Regions from separate parts of the Homo sapiens genome. Here region 2 is linked to region 1. Evidence: fine-mapped expression QTL. Tissue or cell type: fibroblasts. Region 1 holds a variant in brackets; the other region holds the start of a gene. All regions are shown on one strand. Distances are between the middles of the regions. Region 1 overlaps TSHZ2 (teashirt zinc finger homeobox 2). Region 2 holds the start of TSHZ2 (teashirt zinc finger homeobox 2).

Region 1 (12,792 bases):
ATGATACGGGATGAGCTAATGGATGCTTTTCAACAGTCCAGGAACACTGTTTTGATAGTTGAAAAGAGTGGTTCTCATCTTTTATTAACTCCATTCCGTCAAGTTAAAAAAAAAAACTGGTCTATTTTCAGTTTTAGGCCTGGGTTGATTGATGTACATTTTTAACTTTGAGACATGCATGTTTAATTATAGTTTTCCACTGACCTCAGTGTTTGTTACTTATACTATACATTAGCTAAAAGTAGACACTATTAATTATACAGATTTGTTTCAGGATTTCTTGGGGGCAGGATTTTGCTACATACTTTGGGATGCCTGGTGATGTGTGAGGTGCTTCCACACTTTCTAATTTCAAATTTCAAGGATCTTCAGTCTGGCTGCAGTGAAAAGAAACTAAAAAACTGACTTCGCAATTCTAGCATTGTAAAAGACATGTACATACAACTGTCTCTCACCTTCATGACATCCTTGGTGAACTCTTATGTATCTTTTAAACTGCTGTTCAAATGTCGCCTTCTCAATGGAGCCCTCCTTGACCACTCCCTTGTGAAGTTAGAGGATTCTTCCTTTGAGTAAGAAGTTAAATGTTTCACTTTCTTCTCACAATACCCTGTATTGTACTTGGAAATAGAAGTTACCACATTGCTGAAATTATGTCCTAAGTATCAGTCCTTTCTACTGGATTTTGAGTTTCCAGAGGGCTAGGACCAGGATTCATGGGTCTTTGTGTTCTTACAGTGCCTCAATTGCTCACCAGGAAGTGGGCTGGCCAGAATACAAGTCAGAATGAGATGGATGCAGTACGAAGTGTAGAAATCCAACAAATGTGTAAAAGGTAAAGGCAAACCAGATTTTTTTAAAGCTTATGATTGTTGGAAAGTTCAAGTATACACAGACTAAACAGCTGGACAAAACTTGCAAAACAATGAAGAAAGGAAAGAAAATAGTGATTGCTATGTCTGAGTTTCAGGGACTCATAATAAAGGACTATTCAGATTAAGAAAAGGCTACTTGGAAACTATAGATACTAATTATTTTTAACTATAGATACTAATTATAGTCTGAATTTTAAAGAAAAATTCAGGCACATCTACTCTGTGCCAGGGAAGGTGCTGAAGGAACTAGCATGTGTATTACTCGTTTTTCAACAGAGATATGTATTGTTAGTCCCATTTAACAGATGAAGCAATTGAGGCTTAGAGAAGCAAATGACTTACTTGAAGTCATCCAGCTCATCAGAAAGAACCCCAACCCTCCCAAGGTATTTGACCTTGCAGGTCAGTGTTTTTCCCACTCAACCACAGATGTTTTATGTCCTCTTTTGTCGCTGACGTTTCCTCCATGTGGAAAGCTTTGAAAGTGCTCCAGTCACATTTTGAAATTTCATGACAAAAAATTGAATGTCATCCAAAGCATAGTTGAGGATTTAAACATCCCTGTCAATCCTGGCTGTCATCACCAAAAGATTTCTATCCCAACGATAGATCATTGTGACGTGCTTGGCCTAAAGGGCCCTGGGCTGTTATAATGAGTAAGATTGGAATCTACTGAGTAATGCAAATAAATAAAAAAGAGACAGGTAGTCTCAGACTTTTTCATTATTGCCTTCTTTGCTGTGAAGCTCATGGACTGCTCTGTGCAAAGGATCTTTCTTTTTACCATTTTAATAGCCTGTGCAATGGGATTAAGAAAGATCTTGGGTTTTTCATTCAACAGATATTTTCATCATTAAAATGCTTACTGTTTTTGAGCACATAAGTGACTCTACTGGAATGGTAGTAGGAAAATAGGGACACGAAGGGGATTTGAAGTCAGATTATGAAAGCACTGCATGCCAAGCTATAAAAGGAGCGACAAATCAGGGAGGTTAGTTTCTGATACTAACCTTGGCAAACACAGAGAGGGGAGAAGCAAGTGCAAAAGCCCTAGATGAAAATGAGTTTGGATAGTATGTTCTAGAAACAGAAGGCAGCAGGACAGGTGAGAACTAAACAAGGCAGAGCGTGATAAGATATGAGAATGAAGGTGGAGGAAGGAGTAGGGTGATCACCAGCCCAGGCTGCTAGGAGACTGAGGGAGTTCTTGGGGTGATGGATTTTCAGTTTTTAAACTGGGAGAGTCCACGGCACACTGGGACAAGTCAGCCACCATCGGTGGGAGCCAGGTTCTGCTGGGACTGGGGACCATGGGAAGGAGTTTGGGCTGTACTTTACATGCAATGGGAGAGACTGAATGTGTTTTAAGTGGCACATTCTCAACTGCATTCAGTCTGGAGACTGAAACACTGATTCCTTGTTCTTTGGCAAGTCACCCAACCCCTCTTGACCTCGCTTTCCTCACTTCTAGCGAGAGGTGGTTACACCAGATGATCTTCAAGGTTCCTTTCGACTCTGAGACCCTAGGACACTTTTCACTTTGTTCTGTAGACAGAAAAGAGTGGTCAAGGATTACTGAGCAAAGGAATAACACAAAGAATTTTTTGAAGGATTAATCTGGCAGTAGTTTACAAAACTAATCACAGCAAAGAGAGATCTGAAGAAAACAGTTGAGCTCTTACAGTGATCCAAGCAAGAGATGATGAGAGCCTGGACTGGATGACAGCAGAAAGGATGATGGAGACAGGAAGGAAGGGTGGAGTGATATTAACCAGAAAAATTGCTGAATTTGCTGGCAAACTGCACATGGCTGATAATGGAGTCACCAAAGTGTGATTTAATTCATTCATTCATTTGTTCAACTTACTGAGGCCCTATTGTGTGCCAGGCACTGGATGAAAGTAGATGAGCAAGTCCTTGCCTTCACAGAGCTCACAATCTAGTGGGGAAACCAGTATCAGACTGCACGTTTCAGTTGTGCTTAATACTATGAAAGGACTGGGCCAGATTCCATACAAGCGATGCGGAGGTCCTGACCCAGTCTGAAGATCACTGAGGGCTTACTGAGATGAGTGATGTCAAAGCTCACAGCTAAAAAAGAAAAAAACAGCACTAAATTAGGTTGATGGTGGGAGGTGAGGGTGGAGCAGGCCATGGAGTGGAGAACATTTTAGGCACAGGTACCTTATTTGCTGACAACATGAGGCAGGAAGATGTTGCACATTCAATGAACTTAGGAAAACACAACCTGATGAAGGACTAGATGGAGGATCCTGGAAGGCTGGAAAGAGTTAAATTATAAAAGGGACTTGCAGATGCATAATTCATTTTGGACGCAATTCAGAGAGTGATGGGAAGTCATTAAAGAAAGAGTTATAAACAAGACCCTGATGTGCAGTTTCAGAGTTTTGCATTTTTGTATCCGGAAGAATCATGGTATTCCTAAGAGAACTCGGGCTTAGAGAGAGTGGAGAGGTAAATTCTGATGGAAAAGCAAAAGAGGGGAAAGGAAAAGTGTGACCAAGTGGAAGTAGTCTCTCAGGTGCTGAAGACACAAGTCTATGAGCTTAGCAGAGATGAGAGGTAAAGATAATGCTCTGGAGGCCAGGCACGATGGCCCATGCCTGTAATCCCAGCACTTTGGGAGGCTAAGGCGGGTGGGTCACTTGAGGTCAGGAGTTCGATACCAGCCTGGGCAACATGGTGAAACCCTGTATCTACTAAAATACAAAAAAAAAATAGCATGGTGGCGTGTGCGTGTAATCCCAGCTACTTGGGAGGCTGAGGCAGGAGAACCATTTGAACCCTGGAGGCAAAGGTTGCAGTGAGCCAAGATTGTGCCACTGCACTGCAGCCAGGATGACAGAGTAAGACTCTACCTCAAAAAAAAAAAAAAAAAGATAATACTCTGGGGATCATCTGTACAGTTGGAGCTGTGAGAGTGAATTAGTTTTGTTTGAGAAGGGAGAGTTAGCAAGGGGAGAAAAGATTGACAAGACCAGAGTCTTGGGACCTGTCCACATATTAGGAGCAATTCTGGATGATCCAGAGATAGAAAGGCAAACAGAAGGGAGGACGACCCAGGAGGTTTAGGCACATCATACACAGCAGCCAAGCCTGAGTCACACAGACAGGGTAGTGGAGGTATCAAATACTGCACAAAGGTCAAAGAAAAACAAAGCCTGACAAAAGGCCAGTCAGTGTGGCAATTAATAGATCATTCGTTATCGCTGAAAAGGAGGTTGGTGACTAATGTTTGGATTACATCACCTTGGACAAAATTAATAACAAATTTCCTGATAGTCACTTGCAAAGATGCAATGGAAATTGGCTGCTCACTCTCCCTGTCTGTTCTGAAATTTCTTAACTTTGTGAACACTCTAATCTCCTCTGAGTACTGCAGCAGAAAATTGAAATGTGCCCTGTGTACAATGTGGGTGAGTTTCTGTTACCCAAATCCTTACCTTTTAGATGTTTAGAATGTCAACTTCTCCAATTTACTGAATGCGTAGGCAGAGTTTGCATGACTGTTTCTGAGAGTGAATCTATCGGAAAGGAGGGAGAATGACATGCGAAGAGCTTCTATCAATCACGAATCCAGCTTTAGACTGCAAAATCTGTGTGTTCACGCTAAGAAAGGGAGATTTCCTGAAGTCAAAGATCTAAACCCAAAATCTAAAAACATATGAGTAAAGAGTTTTGCACTTAGGGGGATTACTCAGAATAGAGAAAATAATGTGGGTTTAACCATTTCATGACAGCTTTTTTTCTATTCCTTTGAATGAACACCTAGACATTTTTTAAATTAAAATTTTGAGTAATACTTGTTCATTGTAGAAGATTTGCCAAGTCCAAGAACTACAGTATGCCTGACACCTAATAAATACTCGTTAAATATTTCTTGAAAAAAGACATGAAATGGTACAAGATAAAACTGGATTAGAGGGACTCTGGCATATTTGGGATCATGTTAACACTTTTCGATGTGGTCTTTGAGCATGGAGGAATTATTATAGGTTTTTAGTCACAGGATTACATCATAAATTATCTTTGAAAAATACCCTGGCTGCATTTTGCTGGATGTATTGGAGTAGAATGAGGATGGATTCAAGGACAGCAGTGAGGTAGTTACTGTGATAATCAGGTGACAAAAAGATGGTGGCTTAGACTAGGCTGGCAGCAATAGAGATGTAGAGAAGTGGGTGGATTGAGATAGATTTGGTGGTAAAAATCAATAGAGCTTGGCTATATGGTAAATTTAGAGGTACGCTGGGAATAATGGAGTGGGGGAAAATTTTGGTAAAGGTAAAAATCGTAATTCCATTTGGGAACTGTTAAGTTTGATGTTCAAGAGTTAGGGAGAAGACCATTGGGTACTTATCTGGATTTCAACATAATACCCAATTACATCAATGTCAAAGTCCTAGCAAATAGAACATAATGAACCCCTGGCAGTGGACGAGCATGTTTAGGGTGAGATTATTGAGGAAGAAAGACTAAGCCCTGAGAAAGGCCAATATCCAACATTGAAAAGGAAAAAAGTCTGCAAAACATGAGCTTTTGGAGAGCGTGGAAGACTATCAACATAGGGTGATTGTCAAAATAGGAAGTAATAGAGAAGAGAGTGTCTCAAGAGGGAAAAAGTGGTTAGCTCTACTAACTACTTTTAGTAGAAGTCAGTAAGGTGCAAGTTGAAAAAATGCACACTGGACTTAACTTGGCTGAGCTCCTGGGTGAACTTAGTAAAAGCATTCACAGTAGACCAATGGGAGGAGAAGCCAGACTGGGTGGGTTGAAAAATAAATGAGAGATGAGAAATAGAGACAACAGTGTGCATATCTCATGCGGGTTGCCAGACAGTGGTTAACGTAGACAGTGACATGTTCACACTGGAAGAGGTTAATCTGCAGAGCAAGTGCAAAACCCTCTCAAATCGCTGCTATGTTTAAGGCATCTTAGCGCTACAGAGACAGAATAATCCTGTGTATTGGGAATACAGAAAGGAAAAAATCAGGAATGCAGAGACTTCAAGTCTTTAGAGGCCAAATTCCAAGGCTTTGGTCTGAGCCAGGCACTATTTCAAACAGCTGGATTATGTGCCAATATGCCTAACGAAGTGAATATCAGCTGGCCCCACACTGGTAATAAAACGATAATAACTCTATAAATAAATGTATTGAGTGCTGACTGTGCCCTCTATCACACTAGCCACTCTATACCCTTTATCTCATTTAATTTTCACAAAAGCACCAGCAGATAGCTACTATAGCTACTAGTAACCTTTTTCTTTTTCTGTTTTTTTTTTCTTTTTTTTTGCAGAAGAGATCCTGAGGTCCACAAAAGTTGAATTATATGTCCTAATACACATAGCTTATGAGTGAAGCCGTGATTCTGATTGGTCTGACTCCAAAGTTCAACTTAGGTTATTCAGTCTCTTCAAGTTGTTGTTGCCCAATGAAAACTTGTTGCCTAGCTAACTGGAAATCTGACTGAATTTCCAGACTAGCTCAGCTTACCTAATTTAATAAAAAACATCAAGACCCGAAAAGCAATTATGTAGAATGATTCGAATCTTAAACGAGTTAATATATCCAGAGCTCTTATGGTACCAGACGCATAGAGAGCCTTATGTATGTGTTTCCCATTAATTCTTACTAAAAGGCTCTAGAGAGAAATTGGTCTGCCCTTCCCTGGTGCTAATCAAACATTGTGAATAGTAACACCATTTTTTCCTCCCAAGGGCCACTAAATTTCTGCTTCTTACAGAGTAGTTTTCAACTTGGTCTTAAGGAAGAGGATGGTATTTCCTGGCTTTGTGCTTAATCTCTTTACAGGAAATGATATTGTTGTAGGCAAGGACAAAGGTACAAGTGTACACATTTAACAAATGCATTGAATCCTCTATTAACATTGCAAGTCAGTTCTTTAGAGCAACAGTCCCCAACCTTTTTGGCACCAGGGATCA[G/A]CTTCATGGAAGACAATTTTCCACGGACAAAGGTAGGGGAGATGGATGGTTTCAGGATGAAAGTCTTTCACCTCGGATGATCAGGCATTAGTTAGAGTCTCCTAAGGAATGTGCAACCTAGATCCCTCGCATACACAGTTCACAACAGGGTTCGTACTCCTATGAAAATCGAATGCCCCTGCTGACAGAAGGCAGAGTTTAGGTGGTAATGTTCGCTCGCCCACCGCTCACCTCCTGCTATTCAGCCTGGTTCCTAACAGGCCACGGACCTGTACCGGCCCGCGGCCCAGGGGCTGGGGACACCTGCTTTAGAGTCGTATCATTTTTGTTGATCCAGAATAACAAAGAGATGAACAGCCTAAGTCCACCAGCTATGAGTTTGGGATTGAATTTGACACCAGTTTAATTGAGGCAGCCACGGAGATCAAGGCAAAAATAACACTTCTTAAGGTCCCACTGTGTAGTGACAAACATTAGCTTCTTTAATCTTCATAATGCTGTCGGTTCTGCTATAATACTGCTTTTAAAACATGTTTTTTAGAGACAGGATCTTTCTCTGTCACCCAAGTTAGAGTGCAGTGGCATGATCATAGCTCACTGTAGCCTCAAACTGCTGGGCTCAAGCAGTCCTCCTGCCTCAGCCTCCCAAGTATCTGGGACTACAGGCATGTGCCACCACACCCACCTGTTTTTTTTATTATCTTATTATTTTTTATTTTGTAAAGATGAGGTCTCGCTATGTTACCCAGGCTGGTCTTAAACTCCTGGCATCAAGTGATCCTGCCTCAAACTCCCAAAGTCCTGAAATTACAAGCCTGAACCACTGTGCCCAGCCAATGCTTCCTTAAAACATAATTTTGCTCCAAAATGGTGGATACACTTTCAGCTTGACACTGAGTTTGCATTTGTGTACGTGTGACTTCGTCCTTGAGAAACACTGAACACAGAAAACTGCACCCAGCTGAACCAGGCCATGTAGAAATACACAAAAGCAAACACACACATACCTCAAACATCTACTCACTTCCTTCAGCTGGTGTGCCACAAGCCCCACCCACCCATGCACAATTGCTGTTACAACGCTGTAGGATTCCAGGTAACACTCCTCCCACCACTTCCAACACCCACTTCCACGGCTCTTTATTAAGGTAAAATACTTATTTATCACGGTGTTTATAAATTTTTTCACCATTTAACCTGCATAAAACGGTGCTACTGTTTGTATTAGGTTCCTGCTTTTTTATTATATGTTACTGACAGGAGCTTTGTTCTCCCAAACCCATTTTCCCCGTAAGCTCTGTGGGTTTTATTGTGAAATTTAGAAGACTGTGGTCCTTTTTAGAAACACACAAACACCTTATATTAGACTGACTGTACGTAAGTATGAAACAAATATGTTTATTCTTTTTTTTTTTTTTCTGAGACAGAGTCTTACTCTGTCGCCCAGGCTGGAGTGCAGTCAGATATTTTTGTTCTTATTCCCATTCCACAAATATGAAAATAGCCCAGAGGAGATGAATAACTTACCCAAGGTCACCCGTCACTGACTTTGTATTTGTGTAATTTCGTCACTCCCTTCTCTTAACAGACACTTCTAAATAGCTTCAAAGCACATTGAACTGGACAGTTGTTGCAAACCAGCTTCAACATTACAAAAATAAACATTTTCCAGAAAGGCCTTCACTCAAGATGACCCACACAACTCTTTGAATGGTCTATGTATTTTTAAATCATGTGGTAATCCCCTTTGTACATACTAAATAAGTCCCATTCTGCTCACATGTTAATAAATTTTTCTCATTTGTGAGAGTTGCTGAATAGAGCAAGCGAATTGTTTTACTCAGTAGGTGGTCGAGCCATAATAAAGAAGCCTCGTGATTAAGTAGAGTTGGAGCCTCTTATCTTTCTCACTGAGTGGGAGGCACCATTAGTAGTAAAAGTAATTACCTGTGTAGAACACGCTGATTGCATCAAGTACCTACTACACGCTACTAAGATAGTCATCTCCATTTTAGAGCTTCTTAAGAGATCTTCATTTGATGTTAATTTTACATTTTAAGCCAAAGTACATTATTTTTGGAAAACATTGTCTTAGCTGGATGAACTCATTTTTAAAGCCTTTCAAAGGACTTCTGTGCCCTGGTGATTCCCTCACCGATGCCCTTTCTCCAAAATGGCAGCTGCAAAGCTGTCTAAACAAAGTTGGAAATGATAAGCCACCTAAATGTGAAAGAATCTATCTGGCAAGAGTTGGTTTTATGTGGGGGTGAAAAACCTGTGCTTTCATCTATGAAATCACAAAGTCCGTTATGGGAAGGTGTTGGCTATTTAAAGCAGTAATTCCTGAGAAACTGTCCATGCCAAATCTTGTTAAATGTTGTACTGGATAGTTTCAGCAAATTTCAAATTCTTCTCTGATGGGAATATTAGAAACAGGGTGCTCCTGGTTAGATGGAGGCAAGGCCAGAGCCTTGACACTTAGTGGTGGTAACTCAGAAAGAGTCCTCAGCAGAGGGGTTTTGGAGGCCAGAGGACTCCCCCAGCTCTGTCTTTGGCTGACAAAATGACCACTACTTGCAACCTAACCTTCTGTGTATAAAATGAACAGATTGAATAGGTGTCCCATCTAAGTCCAAATTTTGATGTAGGTATACAGCTAATCATTTATTAGATTTATTAGAATTCTTTATGTGTGTGCATTTACAGTTAGGCATCTGTGCAATCGTCCAACCAATGAATCACACCATGCCTTTGAGTTTTCCAATTCTCCCTTAAATGTAGCTATCAATGTTATTTTTACTTATAGGACCCCAAAATGTGACCTTCCTTAGGGAGGTAAATAAGACATTGCTTGTAGGCCTGACTTGAGGCTTGTAAATAGCTTTCCAAATTAATAGGTCTGCAAAAATATATTCTGAAGCCTCACATTTCTATCGGTTTTAACCGTATAGCCAGGGTCGGTGATCCTTTTTTCGCCATATCTACTTCTTTCATATTGCTGATCACATCGGAAAGCCAAAAAAGGACTATCAGATATGATCAGGTTACCTGATAAAAAGAACAAACAGTTTTCGAAGTCAGACAGACTGGTTCAAATCCTGTTTCTGTTTATTCAGGCTCAAACCTTAGTCTGTCATTGTTACCAGCTGTGAGACATTCTGCAAATTATTTAACTAATTGAAGTATCAGTTTCCTCATCTATAAATTGGGCATGACAGTAATATTTGCTTCACCGTTATAAAGACTAAAAGCAAATGAGATAGTATGGAATTCTGTTTCTGTTTTTACTGGAAGGAATTATAAAAATTTCCAGTTTGCATTGATAACTTGAAGAGGGAATGTCTATTTTTTTTATAAGTTTTCTTCCCTTTCTATGTGAATTTTTTTAACTGTAAGCATTTATTGCATTTTTTTTACTTCTGTCTTTTAACATCATTTGATTTATCTTGGGTAAAATCATAAGCCTTCTTTATTATTGTTTAAGTTTCTCTGATTTAAAAAAACTAAAATATTATTAAAAATTAAATAAGATAACATAGCTAAGGTATTTTTCATAATGTTTGCCACAGAATAGCCACTAATCAAATTTGTCATAAGTAATAAGATCACTTCCATAACTACAAAAATTTTATAACCCAGGAAAAGTAAAGAACGACAAAATACACAGCAATTACTCAAAAGATTTTTCATTCCACTTATTCTGGTTAATTTCAGGTCCTGGAATCAAGAACAAGTGTTTATATATCGGTTAAATTGTTTTATAATGAATTTTGAAGAACCCTTGGAATTATTTTTGTGTTGGAATTATATTGTATTAAAGAGTGTTTGAAGCAATTTGGATATTCAAGTGGACTTAGTTTTGTCGGGGTTTTTTCCACTAAGATTTTTCACTGTTTGGGCATTATTTAAGATTCAGCCCAACAATATGTCACTAGCTAAAACTGAATGATGCTGTAATCCATACAGAGGACAAATGACAAATTTGTTGACTAAACTTCTATCAGTTTGGTTAGTGAGGAGCATTCTGATTATAGGTGGGAATTTTTGAGCAAGATTGACTCTTAATTTCATGTTCAATTTTTAAAAATTTATTCATCCTTTCCTCTGTTTTTCTTCCTTTCCAACCAAACTTCCTCCCTCCCTCCCTCCCTCTCTCCCTCTCTCCTTCTCTCCTTCTCTCCCTCCCTCCCTCCCTCCCTCTCTCCCTCTCTCCCTCTCTCCTTCCCTCCCTCCCTTCCTTCCTTCCTTCTTTGGTTAAGCACCTATTCTGTATTTTAAAACCAGTAGTCAAGCTCAGTTCATACTTTTTTATGCAAGTGCCTTTCACCAAGACAAAAACCAAGGCTTGAACTAACATTTAGCTTTTCTGAAAGCAATTTACTGAGAAAGTAAGATGCTTGGGTTTTTTCTGTGTAGACATTAATAATCATTTATTAGATTGTTAGGCCTATTTCAAGCCATGTAACCTCACTGGGTCTCAGTTTGCTTTCCTCCAAAATGGGATAATAATACCTGCTTTATCATATACATGAAGAATTTAGTCCTGTGCTAGCTCATGGTGCATTTGTTAAATAAGAAAAATAGATGCTGGGTGTGGTGGCTCACGACTGTAATCCCAATACTTTGGGAGGCTGAGATGGGTGGATCACCTGAAGTCTCCTGACTTCGAGACCAGCCAGGCGAATATGGTGAAACCTCATCTCTACTAAAAATACAAAAAAATCAGCCGGGCGTGGTGGCGGGCACCTATAATCCCAGCTACTCGGGAGGCTGAGGCTGGAGAATCGCTTGAATCCAGGGGGCGGAGGTCGCAGTGAGCCAAGATCGCGCCACTGAACTCCAGCCTGGGCAACACAATGAAACTCCATCTCAAAAAGAAAGAGAGAGAGAGAGAGAGAAAGAAAGAAAGACCGATATTTCACTTTAGGTAGAACTTTTGCATGTCTTGGAGAATCTGAAATATGACCAGGCTGTCAGTGGGGAAACACACCGAGGAGAAACTGCATAGTGGTAGTGGCTTGGTTCCTAAAGTAAGACAAACTCAGGTGTTCAATGCTGTTATTTATTGAACACTTATTTACATGCCAGGCCCCTTGTCAATTACTTTGTATGCATTGTACACTAGGTGTTATTTTATTATTCCCATTTTACACATAAGGAAATGAAGGCCCCTGAAAGAGGGCAAGGACTTTCCCCAGGATAAATTACAAAGTTCAGATTTAAACCCAGGTGGTCTAGACCTCATGATCTTAAACACTATGCCCCCAGGATTCAGGGCCAGAAAGGTGCCTAGCTGCAAAGTCATGCCCATTACTGAGTTCAACTTCCTCAAATTCCCCCTGAAGTAATCCCACGCAGGGCTCAGTGGTGGCGTTCAGGCGTAAGCATTAAACCACAAGCCAGGCAGACCTTCATGAGGGCTTCTCAAAGTTCTCCTCTCCAGCTGCGCTCAACCTCACCTGTGCCTCTCAAGGCCTAGGGTTATTGTGCATGTGGCATGGTCTCCAGCTGTTCCTCATCCTGACTTCTCCATCTGCACCAATCTCTTTGCATGGAGGCCGTGTCTTCTGGTCTCTTGGTAGCTCAGTAGTGGTGGGGTGGGTGCCAGCTGCCCACTGTGCATCTCAATCAAGGTTTCTTTAGTTGTAAGGAAGAATAACTCTCTTCAAAGGAAACTAAGCAATAACAACTAAACAGTAACAACAAAAATGTCTAAGGAGGGCGCTGGCATAGACCAGGGAATTGATGCAAAGGTGGGGTTGAGTGGGATGTCGGAGAGGGTAGAGCCAGGTATCTTTATGAACCAAAAGGTATATGTGTTTTGCACCTTCCTTCAGACTTTCCTTCTCTCAAGATCGCCATATCTCCATTCAGATTTTTGGGCTAATCTCTACCAAAAGCTTGGCTCTCTGTGGGTAGCCTACTTTCAGTCCATTTGTCTCTGATTGAGGT
Region 2 (12,792 bases), 110 kb before region 1:
TCTGGGGTAAGGCCTGGACACTGGAATTTTTTAAATCACCCCAGCTGGCTGAAATATGTTTGAGAGCACTGCTTTTTATACTTGAAGCATTATGCGCATATACAGAAGGGCACAAATTCTAAGTGTGCAGCTGAATTAACGTTCTCTTATTGAACACACTGGAGTAACTAGCACCCTGGTTAAGAGCAATCCCAGCCTCTCAGAAGCCTCCTTAGACCCACCCTCCAAAGTAACCATCACTATGATAGGCAAGCATAAATTTGTTCTCTCTGCTTGTGTACTAATACATTTGGGATCATAGTCTACCTTGAGACTCTTTGTTTTGAAAAGATACGGACCAGAGAAGGATGCATTTCAAAAGATCCACCCAGGAAGACTTCTTGGAAGAGGTGATATTTAAGAGAGGATCTGAAGGAGGCAATAGACAAGAGGAAAGGGGAAAAGGGAGGGAAGTTGGTGAGGGGAAGACAGCATCAATTGAGAATGAGACACATAAGCTAAAATGTTATCTCCATATCTAATGAAAACCCTATTGGAGCAGTGACTCATACAGTAATCCCAGCACCTTGGGAAGCTGAGGCGGGAGGATTGCTTGAGCCAAGGAGTTTGAGACTAGCCTGGGTAACACAGAGAGACCCTGTCTGCAAAAATAAAATTAATAGAGTGTGGTGGCTCGAACCTGATATCCATGCTACTTGGGATGCTGAGGAGGGAGGATTGATTGAGCCCAGAAGCTTGAGGCTGCAGTGAGCTATGATCGAGTCACGGCACTCCAGCCTGGGAGCAAACAAGATCTTGTCTCTAAACACAAAAGAAAAGAAAAGAAAACCCTATTGCGCCAAAGGTATTTTTAAAAGACCTTCCTTGCATGTATCCTCAGCTTCATGTTCAATCCTTCCACAGATTTTTAATAAGCACCAATACGGTGCTCAACCTGAGGATATAAATGTGAATTTGGGAAGACAGACAGGAAAAACACAAAAATACATGAAGAAAATACAGAGAAAGAGTGGGACAGATAGGGTAGGCAACAAAGGTACATTTGAGTTTAGAGTGAAGAGGAAAGATAGATCTGGAGGAGGAACTTTGTAGAAGGAAAGAATAAGAGTAAAGGTCCTGAAACCTATACAGGAGGCACTATGGTGACTGAGACATTCTCTCTGTGCTCAGGTATCACAAGGCTACCCCAAAGCCCAGTAATTAGAGCACTGCCCTGCACAAGGTAGGTGCTTGGCAAATATTTGTTTAATTGCATCAGTGGTAAAACAGGTGAACTAACAACAAATTCGATATGTTGTGTGCTTTGAGGGGGAGGATTGATAGGCTTCTACAGTGTGATTAGAAGACTTGAGTGAATCCAAGAACAAATGCCTTTTCTGTTCCTTGCATGCAAGAAACTCTGCAAACTCTATTCACTTGTTATAAAATTCAACTTTTGTACAGAAAAGTTTCCTATGCCTAGTGCCTTACCAGAATCACCTGGGACCTTTAAGATTTTGAGATTTTTCTGACACCACCCTGGAATCTAATTTAGTAAGTCTAGGATGTGGCCTGGGGTTCTTTATCTTGAAAAACAAAAAATCCCCAGGTGATTCTGATGTTCAGCCAGCATGTGAACAACTGTTCTGGAAGGTAGGGTTGAGTCATTCCAATCAGTTCATGCCCTTACACATCCCAAAGTTCGAGTGCTGGATCCTAGGAAGCGAAGTTCCCTGGAGACTTAAACATAGCCTCATCCCAAGACACCAGCTCTTATAAGAAGTTTCCCCAAGTGCCAGAGTCTATGGTTTAGCACAGTATTTTCCAATTCTAGCAATGCCCACACCATCTCTTTCACATTTTGCCATTTCCACATCCCACCTGAATCACTTTTTACTCTCTATTGTTCCTTTAATATACTTATTTTTAAAATTCCACTTAATGGGTTTAAATATTAGATTGCTCTTACGCAAGGAGAGCAGGATCTTTAAAAACAGAAGGTAACTCTAAATCGAAAGCATTAAAAACAAAACATTTTTTTAATTCTTTTTTTTCTTTTACTTTAAGTTCCGGGATACATGTGCAGAATGTGCAGGTTTGTTACAAAGGTATACACGTACCATGGTGGTTTGCTGCACCTATCAACCCGTCATCTAGGTTTTTAAGCCCCTCATGCATTAGGTATTGGTCCTAATGCTCTCCCTCCCCTTGCTCCCCACCCCAACAGGCCATGGTGTGTGTTGTTCCTCTCCTTGTGTCCATGTGTTCACATTGTTCAGTTCCCACTTATGAGTCTTATGAGTGAGAACACATAGTGTTTGGTTTTCTGTTCCTGTGTTAGTTTGCTGAGAATTATGGCTCCCAGCTTAATCCATGTCCTGGAAAAGGACATGATCTCATTCTTTTTTATGGCTGCATAGTATTCCATGGTGTATATGTGCCACATTTTCTTTATCCAGTCTATCATTGATGGGCATTTGGGTTAATTCCAAGTCTTTGCTATTGTAAATATTGCTGCAATAAACCTACATGTGCATGTGTCTTTATTTTAGAATGATTTATAATCCTTTGGGAATATACCCAGTAATGGGATTGCTGGGTCAAATGGTATTTCTGATTCTAGATCCTTCAGGAACCACCACACTATCTTCCACAATGGTTGAACTAATTTACACTCCCACCAACAGTGTAAAAGCTTTCTTATTTCTTCACAGCCTTGCCAGCATCTATTGTTTCTTGACTTTTTAATAATCACCATTCTGGCATGTGATGTTATCTCATTGTGGTTTTGATTTGCATTTCTCTAATGATCAGTGATGATGAGGCTTTTTTCATATGCTTGAAAACAAAACATTTTTAAAAGTCTAGCTAGATACTCTTGTCCCTCCCAAGCTTCTGAGCCTAAGATCCGTGGTATCTTTGTTGAAAAATAGAAGTTAGCAAGCATTAGGTATAAAAGAGACACGAGCACAAAATGGTTATTTTATCAGATTGAAAGAGAATTGAAAGGGAATAACTTTCTTACTATGTGATTCAATATTATTTAACATCTTGTCTACAGCACTGGGTACATAGTGTTATACATCCCGCTGGTGTAAGCCAAAACCATTTTCGTGGATAACTAAGCTAACTATTAGTAACGGTATGAAAAAATACAAATTAATAAAAGAACATTTCAGAAATGTAGATCCAACAATGTGTTAATAGCCAGCCAGAAAGTAGGTACTGCAGAATTGTTACAAGTCCCCCACATTATATAACCAGCTATTGAGAACAAGGAGAGAGCGGATGTAAAATTCTGAGAAGGATATTGGATAGAACCTCAGGGAAATTCTGTCATCCAAAGTCATCTTCTCCTGCCCATTTCCTTCCTGATTGTCTCCAAGGCTGGACCCAGCTTCCAAATTCCCTCTTTTTTAGTTCCCAGTCTTTGGGATGTTATTATAACATCCAAAAGCTTTTTGAAGGTGATGATCCTACCTTATGCATTCCAAAATCTGCTGTGCTTGGGGCAAGGCCTGGTAGACCTAACAGGCGCAGTAGATGTCTGTGAAATAACTGGCTGAATGTAACACAAACACCACACCAGCAGGCATGGGGCTTGCACAGAGCATGGCGGCTTCATGGTGAGGTTGCTGCAGCTTCACTCCTCTTCTGTTCAGGCCTCCTGATCCTATAAACAAGTATCCCCTAATCCCACAACGGTGGTTCCTTGGCTGCAAGGCTGTGAGGTTTTATTCAATAGGCTATGGTCCCTTGCACAGTGCTCTGTAAAAATGTATTGGGTAATTAGAATTAATACCTTTTTTGTTGACATTGCCAACTATGAAATCGGGCTTTTTCTGCCTCAGTTGCCTAAGGACTAGGCTGGGACTGGGTGGAGTTGGTCATGGGTGGAGGCTTCTCGGGTGATTTAGGGCAAGTGAGTTAACAACTTGTACCACACATGTGAGATGGAGAAGTGCGTGAGGATGTTAAAAATGATTAAACAGCACTTTGCAAACAATCACAACAACACTTTGTGGCTGACAAGTAGGATAGGGAAAGTTGAGTGTCATACAGCCCAAAGAACTGTTAAGAAAAATATTCATGGAACTAGTCAGAACTGGTAGTTCCCCATAAGCAGGTGGGTGGGTTGTAGTGGGAAGTGTCCCAGATCAGACTGGGCAGGCCTTGCTGGGGTGGTGGGGTGGGGGTGATCATGGTGGGAGGAGGAGTATTGAGGAGTGGGCACAGGTGAAACCCCATCGCGACGGCCACCATTACAACATCACCCCTTGAACCCTTAAGTTACATTAATATCTAAGCCTGACTTGGCTTTATAGTTAACAACATTGAGTATGTCTGATTACAAAAGAACAAACAATTTGGGGGCAGATGTTCTCTAACTGGTGTGAGCAGAAGTTTCACTTGTAGGGATGGATGGGTTACATGTTCAAAATACAGATCTCTAAGCCTTCATCCGGAATTTTCTGATTCAGAAGATCTAGGGTAGTGATGCTAAGCCAAGGACGATTTTGCCTACCAGGGGACATTGGGCAGTATCTGGAGACAGTTTGCATTGTCACAACGGAAGCCTGGGATGTTCCTAAACATCCTACATTGAACAGGACAGCCCCTCCTAACAAAGAATTATCAGACCTTCAATGTCAATAGGGCCTGGGTTAGAAAATCTTGCTCTAGGGCAAGGACCAGGTACGTGCATCTTAACAAGGGCCTCAGGAGATTTTAATGCGGAAGCAGAAGCCTTACACGGTGTCTTTTTGATACAAGGGCTTCAGTATCAGAGTTCCCTTTTTGCCTACCCGTTTGTTATATGTAAGACTCAGCTTTGACTTACCTCTTCCCTTGAAGCCCCGCCTGGTAACCATCCTTCCTTTCGCCAAGTTCAGGGTAATCACTCCTCCTAAGAACACCTTCACCACATACTTATAACCAACTGATCTTTGGCAAAGCATATAAAAACATAAGTTGGGAAAAGGTCTATTCCAGTGTTCTCCAGCCTTTTTTTCACCAGGGACTGGTTTCATGGAAGACAATTTTTCCATGGACCAGGGCAGGGTGGATGGTTTTGGGATAAAACTGTTTGACCTCAGATCATTAGGCATTAGATTCTCATAAGGAGTGTGCAACCTAGATCCCTTGCATTCACAGTTTACAATAGAGTTAGAGCTCCCATGAGAGTCTAATGCCCCTGCTGAAGTGACAGAGCTCAAATGGTAATGCTTGCTTACCCCTACCTGCTCACCTCCTTCTGTGCCACCTAGTTCCTTACAGGCCATGGACAGGTGCTAGTCCATGGTTCAGGGGTTCGGGACCCCTGCCCTATTCAATAAATGGTGCTGGGAAAATTGGATAGCCACATGTAGAAGAATGAAACTATCCCTGTCTCTGACCATATATAAAAATTAACTCAAGATGGATTAAAGACTTTAAACATAAGACCTGACACCATAAATATTCTAGAAGAAAACCTAAGAAAAACTCTTCTGGACATTGGCTTAGGCAAAGAATTTCTGACTAAGCCCTCAAAAGCAAATGCAACAAAAATAAATAAATAAATGGAGCCTAATTAAACTAAAAAAATTCTACCCAGTAAAAGAAACAATCATCAGAGCAAACAGACAACCTACAGAATGGGTGAAAATATTTGCAAACTATGCATCTGACAAAGGACTAATATCCAGAATCTACAAGGAACTCAAACAAATCAGCAAGAAAAAAAAAAAAATAATCTCATTAAAAAGTGGACAAATGACGTGAATAGACATTTCTCAAAAGGAGACAGACAAATGGCCAACAAACATAATGAAAAAATGCTGAACATCAATAATCACAGGGTAAATGCAAATTAAAACTGCAGTGAGATAGCACCTTACCCTAGCCAGAATGGCCATTATTAAAAAGTCAAAAAACAACAGATATTGGTGTGGATGTGGGGAAAAGGGAACTTTTATACCCACTGCTGGTGTGAATGTAAATTAGTACAATCTCTATGGAGAACAGTATGGAGATTTCTCAAGGAATTAAAAGTAGATCTACCATTTGATCCAGCAACCCCACTACTGGGTATCTACCCAAAGGAAAAAAAGTCATTATGTCAAAAAGACACCTGCAGGCGTATATTCATTGCAGCACAATTGCAAAGATATGAAATCAACATAAGTGCCCATCAACTGATTATTGTATAAAGAAAATGTGGTATATATATCTATATATGTGTATTTGTGTATATATATGTGTGTTTGTGTGTATATACACACATATATATACACCGTGGAATACTACTCAGCCATAGTAAAGAACAAAATAATGTCTTTCACAGCAACTTGGATAGAGCTGGAGGCCGTTATTCTAGGTGAAGTAACTCAGGATCAAAAACCAAATACCACACGTTCTTGGTTATAAGTGGGAGCTAATGCATGGGTATGCAAAGGCATATGGAAAGATATCATGGACATTGGCAACTCAGAAGCGAGGAGTATGGGAAGGGGGTGAGGACTGAAAAACTACCTATTGGGTACGATGTACACTACTCGGGTGACGGGTGCACTGAAATCCCAGACTTCACCACTATGCAATTCATCCATGTAACCGAAAACCACTTTTACCCCTAAAGCTATTGAAATAAAAAAAATAATAAAGCAAAAAAAAACACCTCTAGTCCCAGCCTGCATCAAATGCCCTCAGTTGCTTTGCCCTCTCACTGGAAGGAGCACTCCTTGAGGGCATGGTCTAGGTTCACCTTGTTCACAGACTTGCCCCCAACACCTCAAAAGGTGCCTGGCCGATAGCAGAACTCAATAATCACATGTTTGTTTCAATCTCTCTGTGCTCAAATGCCATATCCTACATTGAATCTAGAGCCACCCACCCCCTTTTAGACACTATTACAGCACTCAGCTTAACGTCTTCATGGAGCGAATCACTCAAAGTATCCTGTTTATTTGCTTGCTTACTTTTCATTCATTCAACAAATATTTTACTGGGCACTTATTATATGTCTTGTGCTTTGCCAGCACTTGGGGATATAAGAGAACAAAGAGGCAAAAATCCTTCCTTCCATTGGAGCTTACATTCAAGAGGGGAACTTGTACAATCAACAGAATAGAAAACTGTCTATAACCTGTGTGACACTCACTGATCAGCTCACTGGGGAATAACAAAATGGAGAAATGGGGCAGGGAGTGTGTGTGTGTGTGTGTGTGTGTATTTTAGGTGAGGTAGACCTTTGGGAAAAGGGGACATTTAAGCAAAGATTGGATAGCTGGGGGGCACTTGTCTGCACTCCCCCATTAGAATATAAATACCAACATGGCCACCACCTTCCCTTTCTCTGTGGCCTCTGTGTCTCCAGAATAGGCACATAGTAGATGCTCAATAAACATTCTTCAAAGGAAACAAAAAGAGGAGTATATGATTAGACCTTAAAGTAGACAGAAGGGAGATTTTTGTTTTTGTGACCACCCATTGATTAGCGAGAAAGTGGGAGGGACAGGGGCACTAAATTGAAGGGGTCGTGGGGAGCACATTTTGGTGGGGGCAGGTTAAGACTTACAGGATGGAGATCCTCACTGGATAAGGTCCCCTCCCCCTTCCCAGCCCCGAGCAAACCTAAGTTCTCCCTCTCCTAAGATTGTGCATGGTCCCTGCTGGTCAGCCAACCTGGCCCCCCTGAATCTCCCTCCACAGCCTCCCAGCTTCAGAGTTCAGCCATCATCACACTGCCTCCTTTTCTCCCGCACCCCTTCCCTCCTCACCTCCTTTCCTCCCGCCCCCGCCCCTTCCGCCTCCCGGAGGGGTGTCCCCGCGCCCGGTGGGCACGCCCTCGCCCCGGCGGAGAGGGCGCACAGAGGGGCCTGGGCCGGCGCGCCGGGGCCCCCGCCCCCAGCCCCTCTCCCCTGCGGGACGCTGTCCCTTTAATAGGCTCCCGCTGCCTGGCGCTCTGCGGCTGGGGAGTAAATTTCTCCCTGTCATCAGGTCGCGGGGAGAGGAGGAGGAGGAGGAGTTTGTTAATGTTCAGTTTGTTCAGCGGGATCGATGTTTGCTGGCATCGCCTCGCCCTGTCTTGTGTGTGTGTGCGAGGGTGTGTGTGTGTGTTTGTGTGTGTGTGCATATGTGGGGGGTGTGAGTGTGTGTGTGCGAGGAAGCGGGGGTGCGTGCGCGTGTGAGTGCGTGTGTGAGTGTCTGTGTGTGTGTCTGTGTGTGTGTGTGAGTGAGTGAATTCCAGATTTTCTGTCTTTCCAAAACCCGCTCCTGTCCTCTCGCATATCACTCACAGACGGGGATCTGACAGCAGCCACAAACCTACAGTGAGTGATCGCTCTCCCCCCGGCACGAATCCGCCATAGAGATCGGCGAGGAGGAGGAGGAGGAGGAGGAAGAAAAGAAGGAGGAGGTGGAGGAGGAGGTGGAGGAGGAGGAGGAGGAGGGAAAGAGGAGAAGGAAGAAGAAGAAAAAGAAGAAACCCACTACCTTCCCAGGATTGCCTTTTTTTTTTCCTTATCTTTACGCGCGAGTGTGCCTGTGGCGCGTGTGCGCCCCTCGTCCCTTCCATCCGAACCCGGGCTTGGATGTTTAATAAAGAAATCAAGTGTCTCAACAGTCACCAAAAAAAAAAAAAACCGCAAAAACAAAACCAAAAAAATTCCAAAAGCAAAAACAAAAAAGAGAGAGGAAAAAAAATTCAAAATAAACAAACAAACAAACAAGGCAGAACCAACCTCTACTTCAAAGCAGCCGGCACAAGCCACCCGTGTCTGCCACCCAGAGAGGGGGGTCTCTGGCCCGTGGTGGAGGAGTTGCAGGGGGGATCGTCAGGGGGACAGAGGCCGAGTGACGTCCTAGGAGCCACCGGGCAAGAGGCGGAGGAGACCCAGAGAGGCCAGAGAGACAGCGGGCCCCAGCGCGCGGCTCGGGGCTGGGGCGCCAGAAGTGGGACTGGAGCGAAGTAGAGGATGCCGAGGAGAAAACAGCAGGCACCCAAGCGGGCGGCAGGTAAGAGAAACGGCTCCGCTTCGGGGCTGCCCTGTGCGCCGAGCTCCTCGCCCGCCCTCCTTGCCCCTGGGTGCCCGGGGGCACCACCCACTTAAGCTTTCGGGGGAGTTTGCGCCGGGTGCCCTTCTAATAACCCCGTCCTCTCTCGCCTTCTCTGGTCTCCCAAATCCTCCCCTTCCAAGCTCCGGTTGGGTTGGGGTGAGCTATCCCACCAAGCCTTTCCTCCTTAAACTTTCTTTCCTCCACCCTCTACCCCACCCCTAACTTTCTTCCAGTCTGTTTCTTGCCTCTCGGGCCAAAGTCGGATTGAGGATTTGGGGTGCGGAGTAGGGAGACAGCCCCTCCACCCCTGCATCCCTCTGCGTGGTCAGTGCCAGTGGCTTTTGGCCTCCAGGGATAGCGTCTCCTCTCACTGGGGCTTGGGGCGCTGAAGTGTGAGGCATACCTAACACTCGGGCTGCAGGCAGGCTTTGGGGCCAGCAATAGGAGTTTAGCGTTGATCACCAAGGTGGACAAAATGCCCCCAGGAAATGGATGACTCTTTGCATATATTTTCTAAAAGGATCCATATTTGGAAATGTAATTAACAATTTCCCTATTCTTTAAAAAAACCAAAAAGGGTTGTAGGGGGGAAATTCCCCATAGAAATTTAAACAGCTCTGGATTTTCTTTGCCTAGAGAGTTGCAAACTTTGTGAAATGATTCGTACTGTAAAAACTATCCCATCTGAATCCTTACTGCCCCCTAAAAAAGATAAGAACAGGTTAATGGATCAGTACAATAGACCTTCTAAAGTTTTTTTTTCTTTTGGGTTGCTTAATTGCTTTTTTAATAGTATGCTGGGGTTTTGTTTCTCGGAAATGTAATATGAAAGTTCATTTTTCTTCTGCCAGACCCACCCACTGAAAAATCAGCTTTCCACTTGATTGCTAGTTTTGATTTGACATTTGATTGATCACCTGTCATCTCGCTGCCTTTGATCTATTCATTCTTGATATATATCAATAAATCACTCACCATGGTAACTCAGAGTGCCAGTGACGCAAACCTTGCCCTCTATATTCAGAGCCAGACATGCACAATTATTATCTTGTTTGGCTTTTAATGTGGGCGTTTTTATTTCTTTGTGTCCTTTAGTTGAATCAGGGCTTTCGCAAAAAGCTTAAGTTTAGTTGTTTTTTCCTCTCTCTCTGTCTTTACCCTCTTGATTTAGGCAACATTAGGTAAGACTGGTCTTCTGCAGACCCACCTCCACATTTCATTCTGTTCCAACTCTAGCAAAACATAGGGAGAAGTTTGGTGGAACACTTTCATAAACTTTGCAAAGTCACCCTTAGAACAAATCCAAAGTTAGTTAGGAATCTGAGGAGAGTGGGCATCCCTTGTCTGAATGTGTTGAACCACCAAGCTCATCCTCCTTCCTCGCCTGAGTGTTTCAAAATATCCACAATTATCATTCCTTCTGAGCACAGAATTGCTTCCCTATTTGTAAGTTGGTTCAAGTGGCATGCAGAAATATTGATAAAGCGTGGATTCATATATTTTCTGATCGTTTCCCTAAAAGCAAAATAATTAAAATATTTTTAGTGAGGTACGTATTTGGAACTTGCCTCATCAGTGAGGTTTTCTTTTTTCAACTCTAGTTACTTCTTTGGAAAACAATGTCTCTTTCCTACCGTTGTCTCTTTCTGCATTTAACTCACTGATTTCCTAAAACTTAGGCTGCTTTGCAATCTGACAGCGTGTGGATGTGTTCAATGGCCTTTGAGACCCAGGAACAGTGAGCCTGCTGCATCTAGTTCTGGCAACATAAGTTTAAGTGTAGCTACATTATTAGAGATAACGTCCTTATTGTTGTCCCGAAAGAGAACCCTGGGCTACGGTCCAGCAAGAAGTGATACTGCCCTGAAAATTACTCTTTTTTTTTTTCTGGTTGTTCCGGTAAAGACTATCAACAACTAGGCAGTAATTTAAATTACCAGAATGACTGGACATGTCTCCTTTAGTAAGCTCATTACAAAAAGTGCATTGCTCAGAATTGCTCGACTTTGATTATAATTATCCTACGATCGATAAGGATCCAGGTGTACGTAACATAACACTGTATCACATTATTTAAATCAGGTCCTTTTCATTAAGCTGTGTCTGTTGGTGCTGGCTAGTTTATTGGTGTGTGTGGGTGTGTGGGGGTGTGTGTGTGTGTGTGTTAGAAACTTGTAACTATAGTTTCAGTTTTCTGGCCTATTATATTCCTACTGTCTTTGTATGTTTGTTTTGTATGATTCTTATTATTTTCACCAGAAGCGGAAACCCTTTTTAAGCTGAAAAAGGATGATTCATTTCGTACACAGTGAGGGCCCTCTTACCTTATTTATTTGCTCACATATTAATAGAGGAGACAGTTTTTCATGCAGTGTTTCTTCTGTTCATCTAAGGTCATCAATGCCCTACTCTATTTCAGCTGAAGTGGTTATTCACAAGTAAAGTTAGCCACTTTGGGGTTCTGTAGTCAGTTAACATCCAGGGAAGGGGAGAAGGTGGGTTCTAAGATTATGGCCATACTAACTTTTATCACTGCTTAAAATTAAACACAATGCACAACTGTAAGTAATTACACCCAAGGACTGATGTTGAAAGCTTGATTTCTAGCTTGATTAATGAATAATGGGAGATAGAAAAAGCCTGTGAGTGGATCCGAGCTGAGGCTCTCCCGGAGCGCTCTTTTTCCCAAGAACTGTTCCAGGCAATTTGATTCCTTTGTATTATTAGTTATAAGTTCCATGTTTCAAGGAATCAATTACAGAACTTTCTACTAAAGCAGGTATCTAAACAGAATAAACAAGATGATATTGTAAGTGATGAGGAATTTTAGTCTTTATTTGTTATGTTCCTCCCCCTTCAGGGGGAAGGGATGTGAGGGGACAATTCTCTTTAAGGAAACAGCTAAATCAGAGTATTTCCCTCTGAAATGTCATTCTTCCTGGCTTTCTTAAGCTATGCTATTCCACCATACTATTACTTAGGGCAAGAAAAAAAAAGTTGAGAAAGCAGCCTACAGTACCCCAGGGGTTTGTGTTGTGTGTGCATGCTTGCTTCCTTGGATGTATATTTCACTCACCATTAAAATACATCCACTATTACCTGAAAATATTGCAGGATTCAGTACCAGCATTTTCCCCTTCTATGCATTTCAAGGGAGATAGAGAAAATGGCAGGAAAGTAAAACAGAACGGTGTTTTGATTTGTTTGCATTTTGCAGGATGCAGAGTGGTTAAAAATTTAAAATTGTAGACTTAGAATCTAACTCTTGATTTTCTACAGCCTATCTCAGCCTCTGTGCGCGCACATAAATAATACGTATTTTATTTCACCATACTGAACTGCTTTTATATTAATGACAGCCAATTGCAATAGAACACACAATCTTTTGTGAGCACATCTTGTGAATATATCTTTTATATATGTAAGTTATAGGATTCTGCCCCTGCCCACCCAAAGCAATTAGATGTTTCCCTCTTGCTGACTCTTAAAGGCTTTCTGATCACCCAGATCTGAAGAGTCTTGCAAGAAAGAACAGCTCCCTCAATTTATTTTGTTTATTTAATATGGAGATGAATAATGCAGATTTTGTTTTCATGAATGTCCTTGTGTGGCAGTAAACATTAGACTATTAGCAATCATTACTTAAAAGTTGCAATTTGCACCTTAATAACACAGGTTATTTACATGGGAAACATAGTCAACAGGGACAACTCTGAACACTGCAACAGAGCAGAAATGACCTCAGAGATCTCTTTTCCACCTCTTGATAGTGAT

What was found. PIP is the estimated chance that this variant, and not a neighbour inherited with it, causes the effect.
Region 2: TSHZ2 starts here. The variant in region 1 is fine-mapped to the expression of TSHZ2 in fibroblasts (GTEx, PIP 0.93).

The regions. Positions count from the first base shown.
Region 1 is chr20:53,073,654-53,086,445 of GRCh38, forward strand. All of the region lies in intron 1 of TSHZ2 (teashirt zinc finger homeobox 2), which reads left to right. Among named protein-coding and RNA genes, the nearest start is that of TSHZ2, 110 kb to the left of the region's middle. The variant G/A (reference allele first, on the strand shown) is at 6,841.
Region 2 is chr20:52,964,358-52,977,149 of GRCh38, forward strand. It overlaps TSHZ2 (teashirt zinc finger homeobox 2), which reads left to right and starts at 8,001. Exons shown (of 3, transcript NM_173485.6): 1 at 8,001-8,976. The coding sequence starts at 8,937.